Linked DNA regions of Homo sapiens. The protein of the gene in region 1 purifies or fractionates together with the protein of each later gene. This does not show direct contact. Each region holds a gene or a part of one and is shown on either strand. Other genes may lie near its edges.

The links. The genes of interacting proteins can lie anywhere in the genome.
Region 2: the proteins of HTR2C (region 1) and TBC1D15 purify together in Homo sapiens (co-immunoprecipitation; 3 studies listed by BioGRID and IntAct, with this or other methods). This does not show direct contact.
Region 3: the proteins of HTR2C (region 1) and RETREG2 purify together in Homo sapiens (co-immunoprecipitation; 3 studies listed by BioGRID and IntAct, with this or other methods). This does not show direct contact.

What each region holds. Positions count from the first base shown.
Region 1 is NC_000023.11:114,727,081-114,734,100, reverse strand, and holds part of HTR2C (5-hydroxytryptamine receptor 2C isoform a precursor), read right to left. Parts: intron 3,480-7,020; exon of another isoform or gene 3,325-3,479; intron 2,808-3,324; coding exon 2,494-2,807; intron 1-2,493. UniProt on the Homo sapiens protein: G-protein coupled receptor for 5-hydroxytryptamine (serotonin).
Region 2 is NC_000012.12:71,835,063-71,842,761, reverse strand, and holds the start of TBC1D15 (TBC1 domain family member 15), read right to left. Parts: upstream 3,004-7,699; 5' UTR 2,981-3,003; coding exon 2,951-2,980; intron 1,662-2,950; exon of another isoform or gene 1,531-1,661; intron 1-1,530. UniProt on the Homo sapiens protein: Acts as a GTPase activating protein for RAB7A. Does not act on RAB4, RAB5 or RAB6.
Region 3 is NC_000002.12:219,174,027-219,181,277, forward strand, and holds the start of RETREG2 (reticulophagy regulator 2), read left to right. Parts: upstream 1-4,248; 5' UTR 4,249-4,326; coding exon 4,327-4,607; intron 4,608-4,682; exon of another isoform or gene 4,683-4,895; coding exon 4,896-5,002; intron 5,003-5,706; coding exon 5,707-5,737; intron 5,738-6,083; coding exon 6,084-6,219; intron 6,220-6,643; coding exon 6,644-6,728; intron 6,729-7,035; coding exon 7,036-7,179; intron 7,180-7,251. Other genes in the region: protein CNPPD1, read right to left, coding at 120-181, 752-880, 962-1,082, 1,565-1,646, 2,197-2,305, 2,734-2,802. UniProt on the Homo sapiens protein: Endoplasmic reticulum (ER)-anchored autophagy regulator which exists in an inactive state under basal conditions but is activated following cellular stress.

The DNA.
Region 1 (7,020 bases):
TGTCCTGAATTCAGTTAATTTTCCTTCATGCTGTCCTATTTTTTTGACCATTTCTATTCTTAGTTATTAGATTACTACTTCAAAGTACATTTTTTAATACCTTAACATGCTTGTTTGCAGATTTTTTTTGAAGTGTTTTGCTAGCATATTCTTCGGCTTGATCATTCTTTATTGGAGGGAATGTTCATCAAATGCCTTCTTTCTATTCTCATATTCTGATTTTTTTCTATAGTAGCTTGGTATAGATGAAGATTGGTTGCATCTCAGAATTTCTATGAACATGACTGACAGTTTGTAGGTAGCTTCCAAAATTCCAAGCTCAAGAGCATCCTCTTTTCTTTGTGTATCAAAGTATGGTTTCTTTACTGGAGGGCCTTTGGGGGACAGTGGGAGACAGTAGAGGGAGGGGTGATGGGTCCTAATATTTTGACATTTTCTGTACTGTAAGATGATAAATTTCCCCCTCTTGCTTCTTTTTCCTTTCACTGTGCTTTTTTTTTTTCAAGTCACCTCTTGCTTCCTTTTTTACCTTTTTCCACCTCCAAAGAGTTAATTTTCCAAGGCTGCTTTCTTGAGTCTTATGCATACTTTTCAGTACCTTATCTGAAAGCTGACCTTCTAGAGAAACTTTTCAGTATTTTCGTACTTGGGGTAGACTTACTTGCTTGTGGTGGTTTTTTTTTTAAATTTTTTTATGGAGTATTGCTCTGTCGCCCAAGCTAGAGTGCAGTGTTGTGATCTCGAGTTGCTGCAACCTCTGCCTCCCAGGTTCAAGCAATTCTCCTGCCTCAGCCTCCCGAGTAGTTGGGATTACAGGCGCCCACCACCACGCCCGGCTAATTTTTTTGTATTTTCAGCAGAGACTGGGTTTCACCCTGTTAGCCAGGCTGGTTTCAAGCTCCTGACCTCAAGTGATCCGCCAGCCTGGGCCTCCCAAAGTGCTAGGATTACAGGCGTGAGTAACCGCGCCCGGCCACCTGTGGTGGTTTTAGATCAATCTTAGGCTTCCTAATAGCTTTCCTCTAGTTTATTTCATGCTATCTTTCCTGGACTACTCTTCTTCTACGCAACAGCATGGGGTAGAAGTCTAATAGATAGTTCAATGTTATTTCCCATTTGTTTTCCTACTTACAGGTAATTTGAAATTTGAATGTTCTCCACACTTAATGGTGGTATTGTGCAGTTTTATTTGTTTTTTATATTGTTCTTTGTTTATTTGGGCAGGGGAATAGATATGTTAAGAGACTTGGATTTATGCTAATATCATTATTTGGCCACTCACATTTTTTTAAAGGGAGAAGCTGGCGAAACAGACACCACAGAACACAGTATACCTTCTAAATCATAGTTTCACTTCATTCCAGTAATCTTTTCTTAATTTTGGAGCAATAGAGTGGTAAAATGCCCACTGAGCAGATAAAATACTAGTGCTTTAAGGCTAATGCATCATTGAAACTCGATGAAGAATATGAAAAGCATATATTCTGAGAACACTTTATAAAATGCCTATTAAGATAATCTACTGTTGCCATAGGTATAGAACAGGCTACTTAATTTTTACATTACATGAGAGATTATTTTCTAGATGCATTTATTTTCTTTTAGGATTCGACAACTAGATACACTTTCAATATTATTTCTTCTAGTCTAATTCCATTATACACTCCAGGCAACTGGAAGTCTATTTTACTCCTTTGTGAGATAAGCATATTAGCAATTAAATTCAAACTGGGCTCTCCAACTTCCTAGTAAAGATACTTTGTAGAGTTGTATAAACTATTTGATTGTTCATCATAAATATTAGCTAGAAACAAAACCTTAGGTTAAAATGAACAGAATGAAGGGATGGAAGAAAATCAAAAGAAAAATTAAAAACCTCTTTAAAATCAATATATTGAAACTTTCAATGCCTGAATTTTTAAAGTGATGATATGAACTTACACTTATATACTTAGTAATTAATTTTGCTATCTCTTGTCTCTTTGTAATAACACAAATTATAGACTCCATGAACAAGAAGAATAGCTATTATTGAGTGCCTGTTTTGTGTCAACCACTTAGTTTGGCAGCTTTAAAAAAGGATTTCTTAAAATATATTTATTAAAGAGGATGAGCCGGTTTTTCCTTCTTTGTATCAGAGATGGTAGTAGGTATGTGTACTGCCCAGAACACAGGGGTTGAAAGATGTTTCTGTTAATGTCTCATTCAGTACATTGTAAGGCAACTAACTGTTCATTCATTGTTTACAAAGACACTAAGCAAGAGAGCATCTATGTATGATTTTAATATATATAAAATGTATGTTTTGCTTTTGGAAGACTGTTACTGATTTGTTTAATAAATATGATACATACATCCAACTCCTTCTGTCACACGATTTGCTTTTTTCTTTTTCCAAATGTTACAAGTAAAATAATTAACTTTATGAGTGTTTACTATGACACAAATTTATGACATTATACGAGATTGAAAAGTGAATAAAATTGTACTTACCATAAAGGATTGCCAGGAGAGACAGGGGCATGACAAGTAGTCCCACTAGCATATCAGCAATGGCTAGGGACATTAAGAAGTAATTGGTGGCATTGTGCAGTTTCTTTTCCATGCTTACTGCCATGATCACAAGGATGTTGCCACCTATTGTCATGATTATTATGATGACGATTGAAAGTGCTGGCCAGTTTTGTACCCCGTCTGGGAATTTGAAGCGTCCACCATCGGAGGTATTGAAAATGTCAGTTACTATAGCTGCTACTGGGCTCACAGAAATATCAGATTGCCAAACCAATAGGCCAATTAGGTGCACACTGAAAATTAAGAAAAAAAAAAACAATCAGGTACATATTATATTACTTATACACAATACGTTGCTCATGCAAAACAACTGCTTCTTCATGGATCATTGTCATCATTATCATCATCAGCATCATTGTCATCATCATTATTTCTACTCTCTTAATTAATCTCAGTATTTCTTCTTTCTCTCCAAAAATCACCAACTTTTATTGAGTGATTATTATGAGTTAGGCACTTAGTTTGCTGAAACATATATGTATAATCTCATTTGATCTTATTAAACAACCTCATGATGTCAGTTCTAATTTATATCCATCACGTAGATGAGAAGACTGAGTAAAGTTCAGAAAGGGTAAGTAACTTTTTCAAGCCTAAACAGCCAGTAAGTGGCGGGGCCAGGGTCCATACTCAGGTCCCACTGATTTCAAAGTCTATGTTTTAAACTTTTACTGCGATCTGAAACCACAGTACTGCTTGATTTGCTGTAATAGTCTATTCTTTATATTTTTAAAATACTGATTCCTTTAGATATGTTCTGAGACAGCTGATAACAGAATGAAGGGGGATTTTCTTAAAGCATCCATGACCCTAACAAGGAAACTGGAAGTTGCATTCTATTGATCCAAGGCTAAGAAGGAATTAAGTTGCCATCAGATCAAATTCCGGCAAAGCGTCTGGAAGAGGTACAGTGGGTTTTGACAAGAATACCCTTTCATTTCTTTTCAGAAGTTTTTCTACCTTCTCACATTTGCAAAGTGCCATTATGCTGGTTCAATTGTTTCTTAACGTTTTGTGCTATAAACTTTCCTTCTACCTGCCACTCTCCACATTTCTGTCTTGTCTTATATTTTGTGGGCCTTGTTCTAGGCTAGATAATGATTTGTGGTGATGATTAATGCCTATGGATTTGTTACTTTTCATGCACTGGAACTAAATCTCTTAAGTCATTTAAGTACATTAGAAATGTACATTTCTCATGATGGTCCTTTGGTAGATTCTACCAGTAGGAATTTCAGGCCAGGTGGCAGGCTATTGCCAGAGATGGATGTGGTTGTCATTTGCACATTCTAAATTAATATCCCCCTATGGCGACATGAGATTTATTCGAGTTATGTACATAAGTATTCTCTCAAAGTGTAAGCTCCTAAAATGTCTAATAAAGCTACACATTTTTTCCTTCATAAAATAGACAAGACAGCCAAGCATGTTCAATATTTCCTGCTTAAAACTAAGAAATATTACCTGTGAATGAGTGATTTATGTTTATTCCATGTGTAGTAATAGTTATTTAATTAATGTTAAACAGCAACATGAGGATACATTTCCTATATGTAGTGGTTGTTCAACCTTGATATTATTTATAGAGGAGAAAATTGCCTCTGGTTGCACAATATATGCTACATAATTTTCTATGCAAGATAGTTGAAGGATGATTCTTTCTGAAATTAGGGAGATGGAACACATGACATAACATTCAGAGTCTATGTGTTCTCCATATTATGTATTTTTATGTCATTATCCCAGTCACTTGTTCTTTGAACTGAAGATAGTATCTCCAGGCAGGGATAATATATGTGTGATTTAATGGACTCATTGCTGACTACCATTATCAGAGAAATCGTAATTCTTATCAAATGATGAGAAGTAATCAGTAAATTCTTCCAAATGTATTATTTTCCCAAAACATAAAAAATAGGCAAAAATAATACAGGATTCCAAAATCTATGTCATAATTAATCTGTGATTAATATGAGTAAAAATTAGTGAAATAAAGGACCAAATAAACAGAAGCAAGTTATTCGCTCTCAGCTTTGATTACTCTGTCACTGTATTTATTGAATGTGGCATGTGGCCAATGTCCTGGCTATCTGACTTCAGTAATTTTTGACCAGTCACTTAACCTATCAGAACATCAACTTCATCTGTACAAGAACAATCTCCATCATATGGTTGTTGTGAAAATTAAATGATATATGTCAAACTTTAATACCTGTGTCATAAGAGGCCTTCAGTAAATGCTGGAGGTACCTTCTGTCTGCTTTGTAGTTAAACAAAAGCATTTTATGTTTGCTATATCCCAACTCATGTATTTCAAAATTTGCCAGGATAATTTAAGTCTTGATTTTATTTTGAGACGACGTCTATGTGTGAAGAACTGGACTCAAAAAAGTAATCTTAAATCCAGCACGTTTTCCAGAGTCCTTTCTGGCCTAGCTGATAAAAAACTTGTCCTGCTGGCATTTTAAAAAACAATGTTCTGTTTTAAATTAGCTGAAGATCATCTCAAGTAGTCCCACAAGAATTTATCTCAAATACTAAACTGCGTCTTCAGTTGTTGATTGCAGAATGACAAATACATTTATCCTTAAACCTATAGAATAAGGTCCTAGGGGAATATGCAGTCTGCCTCAAATGTTCTAAGTAAATTGTGAAAACATCGAAATTCATTCATATGTCTCTAAAAATGGTAGAGGGGTACAGGACAAATTATATATAACAGAAACATATACGAAGAAAATTATGTCAAATTATGAATTTTATAATTTGAGTATCTTTGAGTTTGGACTGTTTCAAGTAGTTATCTAGCCTATCCCTACTGGTCAGAAAATTTTTTTTTAATAAAAGAATCTGTAAGACAAATACTGAATTATTGAAGGAAGGAGTCTTGTCAGATGTAAACATATCTGTTGTGAATTACAAAATAAGGTAATGGTGTTAGGATAAATCTTGATAAAGTATTTACTTCACTTTCCTGGTTTCAATTAAATTCAGTTTAATAAATTTTTATTGAGCACTACTTATAGACAAGATTTTATGATTTTTATTAAAGTTTAATCCTTTATTCTTCAGTTTTGTAATGAAGAATTGTCTGTATTATAATTAAATCTAATTTTTAATACTTAACATGCTCAGTGAAATTATAAAGTCCTTTTACAAAAGAGGAGTAATTTAGGTCTTGCTCTTAAAGTTTATCCTAATTGTTTTTAAGCTCATAGGAATCTCATAAAATATGTATACAAAAGTCATAATTTCTCTCTGAAATGCATATAATTTACTCATTGCTACTAAAGTTTTAATGAAAACATAACTTTACATTCTTAGTATATAAACAAAATGATAATTTAATTTAAAAAGTTGAATATATTTAAAATCTACTGAGTTTTTCTATGACCTAGGACATTGTTAGAAGACAGGAATTCTTCCTTGTTTCTCTCAATAGAATTTAAAACAATTGTATATGAATTCTTTAATTAATTTCATAGCAGAATAATTTGGTGCCCTTTACGGCAGTCCTACACTTTGGTATATGGGCCAATGGCTATATACTAAGTTGGCACAGGCCCATGGAGCAGGAACACTTGTCCTTTCATTTTCCCATACCCAACTCTTCTTTTCCCTTCTTTATCACTGTCCTTCACTCTTTTCTTTCCCAGTTGTCTGCTCTAGTTCTCTTGGACTCTTCCATACTTGAAACTATCATCACAACAATGACACTCAAGATGGGCCACAGTGATGCACACTGCAGAGGATCCAATGTTGCTGAACTTTATATCTCCACCACATTGTAAACTTTTTCCTGGGTGAGCTCTTTTACAAGAATCATAAAGGAGACTACCTAGGAGCAAGGAGATTTGGGGTTTCTCAACTATACCAATCAGAGTTTACATTGCTTTGGATCATTTTTTTCTATGCTTCGTTCCTCAAAAAGCAGGTTCGGAAGAAACCAACATTTTTCTATGTAAAAAGAAGGTATACCTGGATTAGATCAAATTTAGAATTGCTTATTATTTGAATCTCCTGTATCTTTACCTACACCCTTTATGTTGTATATTATTGGCTGCAACTGGGTCACTGCATCAATACTTCTGAGGATGACATTGGTTTTTCCCATCCAGCTACATCGCCAAGCCCTATCCCCTAACTTCCAACCTTTTCTTTTCCTACCTCAACTATTCTTCACAAAACCAGAGGCATTTCATTCTCTTAACTGTTCAGTTCATGCAAGAAGGAAAAGGACAGAAATTTTTCCTTTCTAAGTTTTACCCATGGAAAAAGTAGCCATGAACATTGAGATTATTTGAATTTAGGGCATTATCACCATATTACTTGTTTAAGTATATGAGCTCAAGTGCTTAATTAGAGTCCAAATTTTTTTTTCCATTAATTATTTTTGAATAGGAAACACCCATAATATTAGTCTTTTGGGAAGCAAGCCATTTATGC
Region 2 (7,699 bases), on another chromosome or scaffold:
AGTCCCAGGCTCAGGCAATCTTCCCACCTCAGCCTCCCAAGTAGCTGGGACAACAGGCACATGTCACCACAACTAGCTAATTTTTTTATTTTTCATAGAGACAGGGTCTAGTTATGTTGCCCAAGCTGGTCTTGAACTCCTGAGCTCAAGTGATCCTCCCACCTCAGCCTCCCAAAGTGCTGGGATTACAGGCCTGAGCCACGGCACCTGGTTCCTCATTTTCTCATACCTTCTTGCTTCTTCCTCTTCACTGAATACCTATTATGTGCCAGAATCTATGTTAGGGGCAGATGAAACATTTCAGGATCTGACCTCATGATGATTAGTTCAGTCTACAGTTTCTAATATATTTACTCATTAATCCTCATACCAAGAATAAAGTAGGTACTGTTATCATATCACAGATGAGGATACTGAAGCACAGAGAGGTTAAGTAATTTTACTGAAGTCGCTTGTAAATGTGTGGAGATAATTTCTGAAACTAGTTTGGTTTCAGAGACCAAGCTCTTAACCATTACCTTTTGCTGCTTCCCTACAAGACAGAGATTAACTTCCTCCATCACTTTCCGAAACTCCAAGTTCAAAGCAAGTAGAGTTTTAAGAAAAGTTACATCCTAGGTGGAGACACTGAGAGACTCTAATTCAACAGAGCTGGTAGCCCACCATCTGTACTTTTATTAAAAAGTATCACGAGTGATTTTTGTGAGCCTTGGTTAACATTCACTCCCCTGGATTTCTAAACTAGAACTCTTAGCTAAAACTTGAAGGGAGAGGGGAGATGAATAAATAAACACACACACACATTTTCTCCCCATCCCCTTTCCTAAAGAAAAAAGATTAGGAAGTAGGGAAGCATAAAGGTATCATGTCTTTTTATGTTACATTAACCAGCTTTCATTATTATTATTATTATGCTGACGATAAAAAAGTGAAGAGTTTTCATTTGCTTTTTAAATCAAGAGATTATCAGGTTTGCGCATTAGAAAAATAACTCCAGTGGTGGTGTAGAGAAGATTAAGGGCAGAGACTGTAGAAAAGGAGTAAAATCAGCCAAGAAATCAAGAATAGAAGCAGACTAAAAGCCTGAACTATGCGCTGATAGTAAAGAAGATGCAGTAAATTTAAGAAACCTCTTAAGGTAAAACTGGTAGGACATGGTTATTGATTAGAGAGTGTTATAGGAATGAATGCCTCCAAGTATGTTTAACATGCAACCAGGTGAAAGATGATGCCATTAAACCAGATCTGAACTTACTGAGAGAAGAACAAGTGGGTTTTGTTGGTCATGATAGTATTACTTGGGAGAGGAGCAGCTTTTGGCATGGAAAACTAGTTTCAGTGGAGTGATGGCAATAGATGTGAATTTGCAGTGAATGAGAATAAATGAGGTTATGAAGCAGAATTACTAAATATAAGTCTCACTTTAAGAAGTCAGACTATGAAAGGTAGTGGCTGCAAAGAGTGAAAAATGTTTTTCATTTCACAACTCTGCTTCATTGCCTCAAGGATTCTTTCAAAATCAATCCAAACCTGAAAGAGGGAGATGTTTAAACGGAAGGGATCCCCTCTTGAAAAGTCCCAGCCTGGATCAGTTTAGATGGAAAATCAAACAGGATAATCTTCAAATACGCAGTAAGTCAAGCAGTATATCAGCATCCACCCTGAATATAAAAAGAAAAAAACTGACAAGACAACCAAGGAGCACGAATAATCCAAAAAAGGATGCCCACCTATCCTTTAAAAGAGCCAGTAGGTACAAGTGTGTAATTTTATGTTTTTTTAAAAAAAAATTTATATAACCCTAACAACTCCAATACAAGAAATAATGATTGGCATCTCCTCCATTCTACAGATAAAGAACGCGAAAAGACAAAAGTCACAATTGCCCAATTTTCCAAGGTCATACTTCAGATTAACAGCAAAACCAAGCCCATATTTGTCATTCAGCCGCCTAGTCTAATACTCCAAACACCAAACCACAAACGCTGTCAAATAATTCAAAATGGGGTAGGGAAAGCAACAGGGAGACATGAGTGAAACTCAAGGAACAGAGGACGCTATCTGCAATGAGTAAACAACCATTAGTGTTCGATGAGTCACTTCAGTTGATTCCAGCTGTTTATGAAATACTCCTGCACTGGGAAATACTATCGGTGGCATATCATAAAGCTGATAGCCCTAACTATGCATAAGATGTGCCCTCGGAACGCGAATAGGCACTATTCGACGAAATCTCCGCACGTAATTCTAGTTTCCAACGAAATTAGGCGTGTCACTGACCACCTCCGTAAACCAGCATGACCAATACTCCTACTGAAATGCCTAGGAAATAAATATTTGGACGCCTTCCTAGACAAGCACAGGATGGTGTAAATCTCCATTTCTCTCAGGAAACACGTCCTGCTGCTCACAACCACCAACCAACTCAGCAGCTTGGTAAAAACAGACCCAATACACTCGTTTCTTCTAAGCGCACAGCTAGCTGCCTAGCATCTATTCAGCTCCTCCCGAAGGAAGCATAAACATCTTCACCAAACTGTAGCAAAGAAGACAGAGGCAAGTCGGGTTAACGCTTCAAAGAGAGAAAAGACGCTGGAGTCAGAAGAGTAGACATAAAGAACTAGAGTCAAGAAACAGTGAATCGGGGGAAAAAAGGAACTAGAGAGCCACCTGTCCCTTAGTAAAGGTAATACGAATAAAAGCCTCTCTGCTCTGGGGCAGAAGAGCGCCGAGGCCTAGCTGGCCTTGGAGCAGTAGCCGGCTCTATAACTCCGCGGCTGAACTGGCATTCTCGGGAAACCAGCTGGTACCACCCAGTCTTCTCCTACAGACGCCACGGGTTGTCCGGACACAGAAAGTCCCTCGTGTCCCTCCCCCAACCAGCTGCCAGGGAGCAAAAGCATCCCCGTCCCAGAGAAAAGCCGAGGTCTTCCTGGAGGCCGTTACCTACCTTCCCGCTCACAACACCCGCCGCCGCCATGTTTCCTGCGCGTGCCTGGTAATGACGTAGCAGAACCTCACGTGTCTCTCGGACATACAACAACATCCGGCAAAACTAGAATAACATCCGGGCGGGAAAAGGGCGGGGAGTGGCGGGAAGGGAGTGGAGGAAAGGAGCCGGGCGGAAAAAAGCCGCCTGACGCGTGCGTGCTGAACTGGGCTCAGAGACGGCTGGGGTGGAGTCTCAGGCCTAACGCTACGCTTGTGCTTGCCCCACGTCCTCCCCAAGGAAGACTGCTAAAATAATGTGTACCTTACTTGTATTGGAGTTTGTCGAGACTCTGAAGCTAGCGCAGGCCACGCCAGTTTGGTGAGATGAAACGAATACCATACTGGAAGCCAGCAAGATTTGTCCTGGTTTTTTGTTGTTGTTGTAGAAAAGGAGTCTCGCTCTGTCGCTCAGGCTGGAGTGCAGTGGCGCGATCTCGGCTCATTGCAGCCTCCGCCACTCGGTTCAAGCGATTCTCAAGCCTCAGCCTCCCGGGTAGCTGGGATTACAGGCGCGCGTCAAACGCCCAGCTAATTTTTAAATTTTTATTAGAGACGAGATTTCGCCAATGTTGCCCAGGCTGGTCTCGAACTCCTGACTTCAGGTGATCCGTCCGCTTCAGCCTTTGCCCAGAGAGCTGGGATTACAGGCTTGAGCCACCGCGCCCAGCCCATTAGCCTGGTTTTGTGGCAGTAGGCAAATCACCAGTGCACTCGAAACCTCAGTTTCTTATAGTAAAATCAAGATAGTGGCGTTGCGGTGAAGATCCAAGAAAGAGCAGCACTAACATGGAGATATCCCAGGCACTATACATGGAGACTTTTCCCCTCTGTATATGAGGTTTCTCTATTTGTCTGGTCACTGCCACTCACACATGACCTCCAGCAAGGTATTTCGATAGGAACTGTGATAATACCACGCCCTCATAGCTGCAGAGCCCAAGGCACATAGTTTATAGCACCTACACATTACTTATTAGCTCTGTGACTTAAAGCAGGTTTCTAAATTTATCAGAGCTTCAGGATGTAAACTGGGAATTACTCCTGCATGGAGTGGTTGTAGGGATTTCATACGACAATACATGTGTGGTAAAATGATTTGTAAAGATACTAAGGTAAGAATTTTACTTGTTCTCAGTGCTGTAAAAGAATGCAGAGAATGATTATATACTACCCCCTTGATAACTCTGGCACAGATCTGGGATTTCCCTAGCTCCGGGGCAGAATAAAAAGTCCCTTTCACCAAAAACACTTGTGTCCATTGAGGTACTTCCGTCTTCACACAGTGGAGAGGGGTTAGAGGCTTTTGAGTTTGGTTGAGGTAGGTGGCAACTAGCTGAACGACAGAAAAGGAGAGTTGCCGGTTATGTGACTACCAGGAACCTAATAGGTGAGGAAAGTGGTGGAACCTTAGGTGGGAATGAATGCGTAGCATATTAGGGAGATTGCGTGCTAGGTATCTGAGATTCCAACCATGACCAAGACCCTTATGCCCAAGCTTGGCAGGGAATCAAGAAAGCAGCTCACCTACAAGGGATGAATGAGGTGGGAAAATGAGAATATTAGCAGTAATCAGCATTGAGTGAAGACTAGAGGGCCTTTTCCAAATGTACTGGACTGAGACTAAGACCCCTAGAACCTTCATATAATCTTGGGTGTGGAGTGGAAAATCCTACTGATGACCCAAATTACATTTTCCACCAGCTCAGAGCATTGGGATGTGGTTAGAGAAAAATTTTAATGTGACATCACATTTCTTACACCCTGTGTTTTAGAGAAAATTTGAAGCCCTTAGCACAGTGCCAGGAATAAAAGGCTCAATAAATGTAGTTATTACTTATATTTTAAAATATAAGTTTGAGAACTACAGGCTTCTCATTGAAAAGCATCATTGGCATCTCAGGTTCATCTGCTACTTCTTGACCTTCTTAAATTTCATCCTACAAGTGTGCCTTAAATAATGGCGCTACCCATGGGCTGGCCTTGGGCCTCTCTTCCTTTTTCTCCAAACACTATTCCTGGGCCGTTATCCTCATATTCTGGCATCAAAATCTCCTATGTACTGATGACTCCCAAATATTCCCAGCCCAAGTCTCTCTTTCCTAAACTCTAGTCCCTGTGTCCACTGCCACTGGACTTCTGACTTGAGTGAGCTAATCATACATCAAAAAAGTATAAGCCTTTACTACTCAAAGTGTATGTGTACAGACCAGCAGCACCAGCATCAGTTGAAAGCTTGTTAGAAATGCAGAATCTAACTGGGCACGGTGGCTCATGCGTGTAATCCCAGCACTTTGGGAGGCCAAGGCAAGCGGATTACTTGAGGCCAGCAGTTCAAGACCAGCCTGGCCAACATGGTAAAACCCTGTCTCTTCTAAAAATACAAAAATTAGCCTGGCGTGTTGGTGCATGCCTGTAGTCCCAGCTGCTCAGGAGGCTGAGCCAGGAGAATCACTTGAACCTGGGAGGCAGAGGTGGAGGTTGCCGTGAGCCAAGATCATGCCACTGCACTCCACCCTGGGCAACAGAGCTAGACTCTGTCAAAAAAGAAAAGAAAAGCAAAGCAGAATCTCAGATCCCATCCCAGAACTACAGAAAAATCTGCATTTTAACAAAAGCCCTGATTTGTGTGTACATTAAACTTTGAGATGCATAGTCTTAAGTGAAACTTTATTTTGCTTTTGTTCTCTGAAAATTAGTACACTTTGCTGAACAAGAGATGTAGCTAGAACAGTTTCTCAAGGAAGTGTTGCTATCATGTGTTACAAATTAATTTGAATCAATTCTCCCATTTAGGAATGGCACAGTTATACATTAATAGAGGAAATAGACCTATTTTCCTTCTTCAATGATATCCTCTGTCTATATGCAAAGGGAAAAAACAAGGTCAGGATTTCAGAAGGGGTTAGTTTCAGGTTTTAATTTTTTACTTTATTAGAGGGAATGATCAGAGTACACTTACATATAGCAAGTGGACAGATTGTTTTAAAGCAGTAGGAGATATGAGATTTAAAGCATATGAGATTTAATGTAAATAAAGTCCTTAAGTTCCCTATAAATTAATGTTTTCATGACAGTAATTTCAGAGCTCCTAGATTCACTCCTATAAACTATATAGTCACTCACTAATTATAATTTATTACTGGCAAAGTTACATAATGCAAAAGAATCTTAATAGTAAATGCCATAAAGAAACCTTAGGCCTAGGGAGGACTTTGAAGATAATCTCCCCAAGTTTTTCAAGTGAAGAAATTGAATGTCTTAGAGTAATACCTTGCAGAAGTCACAAGCTGCTTCATGGCTGAATAGAGACTTCATTCCATATACATGTCTTATTTAGCTGTGCTACATTATCAGCTAAAAGTGATTATTCCTATTTCTGAACTACAGCATTTAATTACTGTTCACTTTGATTCTCTTTCACCTCAGTTTCTGGCTGGCCTATTTGTCTTTTGAGCTTATCCCATGTCCCACTTCATCTATTAAGTTTTCCCCAGCGTTTCCACTAATTGATCTCTACCTCTCCTGAATTCTTATAACAGTTAGACTACAGACTTTTAGTGCTTAATTAATCAAGATAGTACCATGGAGAGAACATGGATTTTAATGACAGCCAAGTGATTACAAGATTCATTTCTGGAGAAATTGACCAACTGAGGAAATCAGACCTTTAGTTACTAACAGTTGGGTGTCCTCATTGAAATTACACAACTGGCCAGCTGCGGGGCACACACCTGTAATCCCAGCACTTTGGGAGGCCGAGGCGGGCGAATCATGAGGTCAGCAGTTCAAGACCCACCTGACCAACCTGATGAAACCCCGTCTCTGCTAAAAATACAAAAATTTACCAGATGTGGTGGTATGTGCCTGTAATCCCAGCTACTCAGGAGGCTGAGGCAGGAGAATTGCTTGAACCCGGGAGGCAGACGTTGCAGTGAGCCGAGATCACACCACTGTACTCCAGCCTGGGTGACAGAGCGAGACTGTCTCAAAAAAAAAAAGAGAGAGAGAGTGAAATGATACAACCACATCATCCTACAGTAAAGATCAAAGTTCCCACCTCTATATCCAAAACTTCCAATCAGCCTCTAGTACCCAACTTTTTTTTTTCAGGGCAGAAGAAGTTGAGGTGCCCAACTATTAAAGATGAACATCTAACCATAGTTCATTCTACATTTAAGAAAATCTTTAATTTGAAAATCAGGGACCAAAACAAACAAAAAAGGTGATTCAAAGCAAATTAACAATGCAGAGAACAGAAGAAAGCTTTTTAACTACAATAAATGTCTTTAGAGAGATAAGAGGAGATTTTGCTTCCACGAAACAAGAATATTCAGAGAACAAAAGTAAGCTGTTAGAAATTAAAAATATGATGCTAAATCTTGTGAAGATTACAGAAGTCCAGGCCACCATGCAGGAGCTGTCCAAAGAAATGTTGAAGGCTGGGATCGTAGAGGAGATGTTAGAGGGCACTTTTGAAAGCATAGAAGATCAGTAAGAAATAGAGAAAGAAGCAGAAATGGAAAGTGACAAAATGCTGTTTGAAATTATATCAGGGGTCTACGGCCATACCACCCTGAATGCACCTGATCTCGTCTGAAATTACAGCAGGGGCCTTGGGCAAAGCAAAGTGACTGCTGTCCTTCTAGAGCCAGAATCTTCAAGAGCGATGGCCGCCTCAGAGGACAAGGAGGAAGAAGAGGCTCTGGAG
Region 3 (7,251 bases), on another chromosome or scaffold:
CAATTCTCTTTCTTGTCTCCTCCCTCCCCCAGTTACACAGACTCTCATCTCTAGCTCCTATGGCTGAGGACTCAGCCCCCAAATCCCTCGAGCCCTTCTTCCCAACTCCTAGAACCTACCAGCTCTCCAACCAGCTCAGCACCTCAAAGATCTCCCGAGGGTCAGTGTAGAGATGCCAATCCTGTGAGTACGGAGAGTGGACATCAAACCAGACTTGGATGAGCCACAGTCATTTAATAATAAGAGCCATAGCAGCAACTACAACCGCCCCTATGGCTAATGCATATTTGGCACTTACCATGTGCCAGATACTGTCTCAAAAGTTTTTACACATTAACTCATTGAATCACCACCTGCCTGGTTTCACATTATACTCTCCACTAAGCAAGAGGGGAGAAAATGACCCTGAGAATGGTCTGTGTCCACAGGGAGCTAAACATCTAGGGGCAGAGAAAGTATGGACACAAATATTCAGAACCCAATAGGATAAACTCTGACTCAGAGTGTACCCTGTGGGGCCCTGGAGGAATAGAGGAGGCGAGGAAATGTTCTGCTCTTGGCCTTACTGCTCTACGAATCTCCAAAAACTGGTTAGTACTGAAGAGATAGGAAAGGAAGACACTAACACAAAGGCAGGAGGAGGACAGGAAGAGAAATGACGAACCAACAGAAGACTGAGAGAGAACAAAGGACTAAAGGACGGTTAAAGATGGGCCAGGGAAACTGAGCAAGAGAGAGAACAGCTGCTCACCATGGCACTCAGGAAGCCCCTCTCCAAGGCATTGAGAGTGGGCACGGCCACACCCCCAGCAGCTCCCCATTCGTCGTTGAAGACCTCCTCCTCCTCCCCTTCATCATAGAGGTACTTACTGGCCACCATCTGCAGAGGAACCAGAAGTGGTGGAGCAGAGCTCATAGCAGGCTCTTGGCTCTTTAGGGAGATGGGGAGGGGGTGTCTTACCATGGAGATCAGGAACAAGTCAGAGGATGACACATGCTGCAAGTAGTCTGGGTTTCGGTGCCGGAGCCGTTCAATGTACACCAGAGCCAGCATCATAGCACATGGGGAGATGCATGCCTCCCTGGGTGGTAGAAAGGATCACTAATTAAACCCAAGGGTCCTTCAGCTCTTGCAAGTCTTATGATGCTCGTTCCTGTCTTTACCTCTTATCTTTGGAAAAAAACTATTCCTGGCTGGGCACGGTGGCTCATGTCTGTAATCCCAGCACTTTGGAAGACCAAGGTGGGTGGACTGACACCAGGAGTTTGACACCAGCCTGGCCAACATGGTGAAACCCCGTCTTTACTAAAAATACAAAAATTAGCCAGGGGCGGTGGTGTGTGCCTGTAGTCCCAGCTACTGGGGAGGCTGAGGCACAAGAATCACTGGAACCCAGGAGGCGGAGGTTGCGGTGAGCCGAGATTGTGCCACTGCACTCCAGCCTGGGTGACAAAGTGAGACTGTCTCAAAAAAAAAAAAAAGAAAGAAAGAAAAGAAAGAAAAGACGATTCCCCTTTCTCTAGGGCCCAAACACTCTCATCCTATCCTCATTTCCAGGCTCACCGGGACACATGAGCTACATATTTCTTCTGGAGTCGGCGAATAGGGCTGGGGGCTGCCTTCTGGAGCAGTTCGACAGCAATGTCTGCAAGGGACAGAAGGAAGGCCGAGTGAGCAAACAAGCACCCACACCCAACACACCAGTCCCCACTGCTAGCAGAAGACCCAGATCTGTATTTTCTGAGGCCTTGGGGACAGGACCATAGTAACAAAATAGAGATCAAATTCTCACACACTGAGACAAAAAGCCCATTCCAAGTTCGAATTTCAGCTCATTCTAACAGGAAAGCTTATTGCCCTGTCACATCAAACTATCCAGATTTATCTGTCACTGCTGTTCATCTGTGGCATAAACATGCCTTGTTTACTTGGGGAACATATGATGGATATCCTTCGAAAATTAGCTTTTCAATATATAAATCAAGAGTGATTTGTATAGATATATGTGGCAGCAATGTTTTTTATTCATTTGGGCTAAAAGAATGGGAAATGCAAACTGCCCTCTTGAACCAAGTACCAACGAGCTAGCAATGAAGAGACAGTGTAGCCACGGGGCAAACCTCGAGCCATTTTCTGCCTGATGACAATCCCATTTTCATGCTTCTCACTTGTCCAGTCACACAACACTGCCTAACCTGCCACCGGGCTGGAGAGCTCCTCCAGGCTACAGTCGGCTTCCCAGTCCCAGCCATAGTAGAGCCTCCTTCGGATCCGGGCACTCAGCTTCTGGTGTCCTGGGAGGAACTGAAACAGGGCAGGGGCAGCGGAGGGTGAAGGGCACGGAAAGGTATGATGCAGATCCTGGCTCTGGGCTGGAAGGCGGGGCAGGGGACAGGCCGGCCTCGCTGCTAGGGGGCCCGTGCCTTACCCAGACCCGCGTTCTGTAAATCGCTTGCCAATGGCAGCCTGGTCCATAGAGGGAGGAATGCCCCCACCCCCATCGAGGGTTCCCCGGGAGAAGTTCTCCGAGAAGGGCCCTCGTGTGGCCACCCCTACGCCCATTCCTATACTCCGCGGCTCTCCCTCCCGGCCCAAGCAGCCGCGGCCTCAAGGAAGCACTGCTCGAGCAGCTGCCGCCCAGTCCCGGCACAGCAGTCAGGCGAGCTCGCAGCGCCGCTCAGGCCGGGAGGGGCGCGCCGGGAGGCCGGGGAGGGGGCGGGACCCCCACTCACCGTGAAGTCCTGGAAGCCGGCGAGGGAGAAGGTGCCTTCTTCGTCCAGCAGGAGCCCGGTCAGGTCCATCGCGCCGCCAGTCGCCGCCCTGCGAAGGTGAACGGAAGGAAACGAGTTGTAGGGGGCTCGCGGAGCTGTCCTTGCCCGCCTGTCCACCTGCCAGCCTGCCTCCCCGGGGCGGGCCGCCGTCCTCGCCCTCGCCCTCGCAGCTCCCTCCCCCCGGCGGCGGAAGGCGGGGCCCGGGCTGAACTGGGCGCCTCTTCCTGTTCCGCCCCGGGCTTGGCGCGGCGCGCGGGGGCCCTAGGCCCGGGAAGGGAGGTGTCAAGCGTCCGTGCGACGCTCACCTCGCGGAGCAGAAAGGAGATGCGGCTGCGAGGCGCGTACTCCGCCTGTGCCGCGTCCGCCCGGCGTTTACAAGCCGCGGGGGTGCCGCCTGCAAGTCAGCGCCTGGCACTTCCTGCCGCCCATCTGGCCCAGCCTCCCGCCCCGACCCGCGGGCAGGAACCGGACTCGAACTCCTGGTCTCACGGAACGTGGCCAAGCCCCAGGCGCCTCTGAGAAATGGGGACAATTCGTAGGGGGGACCACGCCGCACTGAGGATGAACAAGCCAGGCGTAGCAATGGAGAAGTTAATGTGAATAAGACGAAACGCACAACAGGAAGTTGTTCCCAGTTGCTTTTTAGGAGAGATATTATACATACTCAGCAATGCATATGAAAAGCGTCTGAAAGGACACACAGGAAATTTAGCAGTGGGTGAACTATGAAAAGGAAGAGAAACTCAGGGTGTTTTTTTTTTTTACTGTAATTTGAACTTTTAAACCTAAGGCTACTGAGGAAATTCTGTGATCTTAAGCGAATGTAAGGCCTCAAAACGTGTCAACACGTCCACCCAAAAGTAAACTGCATCTACCCAAGGTTTTGTGTTGAAACCCACCTCCCGCCTCCGATCTCATGCTTGAGTAGGCCGAGGTGGGAAGAAGCTCCGATATGTGGAAGTGGGAAAGTTTAAGGAGATAGGAAAGAAACAACTTTTCTGAGTAGATGTTGTTTTCGAGTCTGTCGAGTCAAGCGCTGGTGTGTGTTTGTTTACCCACTGAGGGGAGGGAACTGGGAGGACCAGTGCGTTGAGGGTTGGTTGAGTAATGGGACGGCCACCGCCCTTCCCGAGCGAGCAGAAGCAGACCCTACCGGGGATACTGGGAATCTGGAAGCCCACTTCCTGCCCCACACGGGGATACCGGGGCAGCACCACACTCCCTAGCCGCCCTGCCTACTGTGGGATAAGAAAACGGGCTCGACTGCCTGGACCTAGACCCGGACTCGGAACCCGGGGTACTTCGTCAACCAGAAAACGAACCTGTGTAGGCGCAGTGTCAGCGGCAGCCGCCGGGGCGCATGCGCGGCCCGCCCTATCCGGGGGGGGGGGGGTTAGGCCGCGTCACGTGACGGGCTCAGCGCTCCGCAGTCACGTGACGCTCGTCCGCAACCTCTGCTGTCCTCCGCGGCGCCCCCTTCCGCCTGACGCGCCCCCGGCGGCGGCCGCGCAGCCCTGGCTCCTCGCGGGCTCGGGCGGCGGCTGCGGCGGGGCTATGGCGAGCGGCGGTGGCGGGGGTAACACTGGCGCGGGTGGGGGGCCGGGGATGGGCCTGAGCCTGGGCCTGGGTCTGGGTCTGAGCCTAGGCATGAGTGAGGCCACCAGTGAGGCAGAGGAGGAGGCGGCCACGGCCGAGGCGGTGGGACGCCTGGCCACGACGCTGTGGCTGCGGCTCCGCGGCTGGGAGGCGGTGCTGGCGGCGGCGCAGCGGTTGCTGGTGTGGGAGAAGCCGCTGCACAGCCTGGTCACGGCGGCCGCGCTCAACGGCCTCTTCTGGTAACGGCCGCGGAGGAGGGGGCGGGGCCGGGATGAGCGGGGGAGGGAGGGGTCGAGAGCACCATTCCCCTTTCTGGGTTATCACTTGGCCTGGGGGCATGACCCATCCCCAGTTTTTGCAGGCTGACATCCGCTTGAATTGCCCATTTTTTTCTATCTCTGAGTCGTGAGTCGCGAGTTAGGCCTGGAGGTGCCATTACCCCATCAGTAGGCGCCTTTCCACCTTCTGAGATGGATGCATGAGCCTGTCTCACCCACTCACTGCTGAGGTGCCTGTCTCTCCCTAAGGTTGCTGTCTTCCTCGTCCCTCCGGCCCTTCTTCCTACTCAGCGTCTCACTTTTGGCCTATTTTCTGCTGGATCTCTGGCAGCCTCGCTTTCTCCCTGACGTTTCAGGTGAGTGTTTCTTCATTCAGTAAGCACCCATTGGGTACTTGCTTGGTGCCTGATTCCGCTGGGTGGGGTTAAGTGGCGAGGGGAACGTACAGCAGGCCACCTGCCTCCCAGGCATGGCCCACTTCCTTTTTGTACGGAATTCCCTAAAATGAGAATTGCCCCTTTCCCAAACTAATACTACTGTAGGTGCAGTGGTTAAGATGGTGAAGTCTGCAGCCATATTACCTGGGTTCCATTCTCTGTTCTGCCATTTACCATTGCTGTGACCTTGTAAAAGTAGCTCAATTTCTGTTTGTCTCAATTTCCTTATCTGTAAAACACAGATGATAGAACTTACTTCATAGAGAGGTGAGGAGAGGATTAATGAGTTAATACACATGCTATACTTATGATAGTGTTTCACATATAAGCCTTATAAATAGAACGTCAGTGTTGTTTTTCTTGTTATCCATATAATTTACTTAGTAGGTGACAGGCTGTATGTGAGTTGCTTGGGAGATAAGCATGAGTAAAATCTAGTTCTTATGTTGGAGAAGGGTAATGTCTAAAGGAGACAGACGCAAACAAAAACATGTAACAGCTCCCCCATTGGCATCTGAAGAAGGTGCTCTGGGGCTGCAGAGGAGGGACAACTATTTCTGCCTTGGGGAGTGTCTCCCAGGGCCCCTACCACTCAATAATTTGCCCCCCTCCTCTCTCTCTAGCATCATCCCCAGAGGAGCCACACTCTGACAGGTGAGTACAGGCCACCTCTTGAAGACAAATGCCCACATCCTGTCCTGCTTGCTGGTGCCAGTGTCACCATGGAGCAGGGCAGTGCCCCAGCATTGTGAATGAACTGGTAACAAGCCATGGGTTTTTCATGGTCCTAGGCTCCTGTGTAGGTGTTTGCGTGCCTGCTCCTTTTGGGGCAGAGGGTTGGGTCCTCCTGGCTTTGCTTCTAAGACCAGGACAGCCTCCTTTTGAGAGGTGGGGTCATTTGCTTTTTTAGACTAAAGATATCTTTGGCATTCTCAGAGGGATTTAAGTGTCTAGGAAGCTGGTATCTGAGGCCTCCAGGGGTCATGTCATGTCTCCCCAGTGAGGGTGCGGGGTCAGGCGCCCGGCCGCACCTGCTGAGTGTGCCCGAGTTGTGCAGATACCTGGCTGAGAGCTGGCTCACCTTCCAGATTCACCTGCAGGAGCTGCTGCAGTACAAGAGGCAGAATCCAGCTCAGGTAACCTCCCCTACATCATACAACAGTTCACTACACTGAAGGGGAATAGAGGTGGCGGGGGATGGGAGTGGAGTGATATAAACTCCCCGCTTGGAGACCCTGAAAGAAGAGGCCTGGGCGCCTTCTTGAGGCAACATTCACAGCTAATCCCTGGTGCAGGAGGCAGTCTCACCTCAGGAAATAAGCTTTTGATAGCCTGACACTTTCTCCTGCCAAGGCAGACCAGTGTGAATTACAGGTGGTGGGCATTATGTATTGCCAGCTTCCTGAATTGGTGGTCTTGAGCATCCTCTTAACCAAACTGGACCACCCCATTCCTTGAGTACATACCCATCCTTCTACCAGCTGAGCAGTAGTTTCTTACCCAGCCGAGCGGGGCGCATATCTCAGCGTGATGTTCTTAGACTTTTGCTCTTCTCTGCAGTTCTGCGTTCGAGTCTGCTCTGGCTGTGCTGTGTTGGCTGTGTTGGGACACTATGTTCCAGGGATTATGATTTCCTACATTGTCTGTGAGTAGGGTCTGTCCCTGCCCTATTTAAAGCCCTCTCCTTTCTTCTTTCCTTGGACTGACCCAGAGGGAAGACTATGCTCTCTCTGCTCAGTTTCTGATTTGTGGAGATCTCCAGGGATGCTTTAGTATTAGTAACTGTGGAAGACTTACCTGGGGAGGAGGGCAGTGGATGTGGCAAGAAGAGGTTGGCACAGCCTTGGGAAAGGACCTTGCCTACCTTCAGCACTTCAGTTTAGGGACCAGTTGAATGGGGGCTCTTAGGAAATTGGCGTAGGGAGCTCTTAGTTCACGTTCTTAACCCATAGTGTTGAGTATCCTGCTGTGGCCCCTGGTGGTTTATCATGAGCTGATCCAGAGGATGTACACTCGCCTGGAGCCCCTGCTCATGCAGCTGGACTACAGCATGAAGGCAGAAGCCAATGCCCTGCATCACAAACACGACAAGAGGAGTAAGGGGCTGCCCTAAGCCAGGAGGGTGAAAGAGCGGGAGGGCCTTGGCTTGGGGTTCATGAGATGCCCTG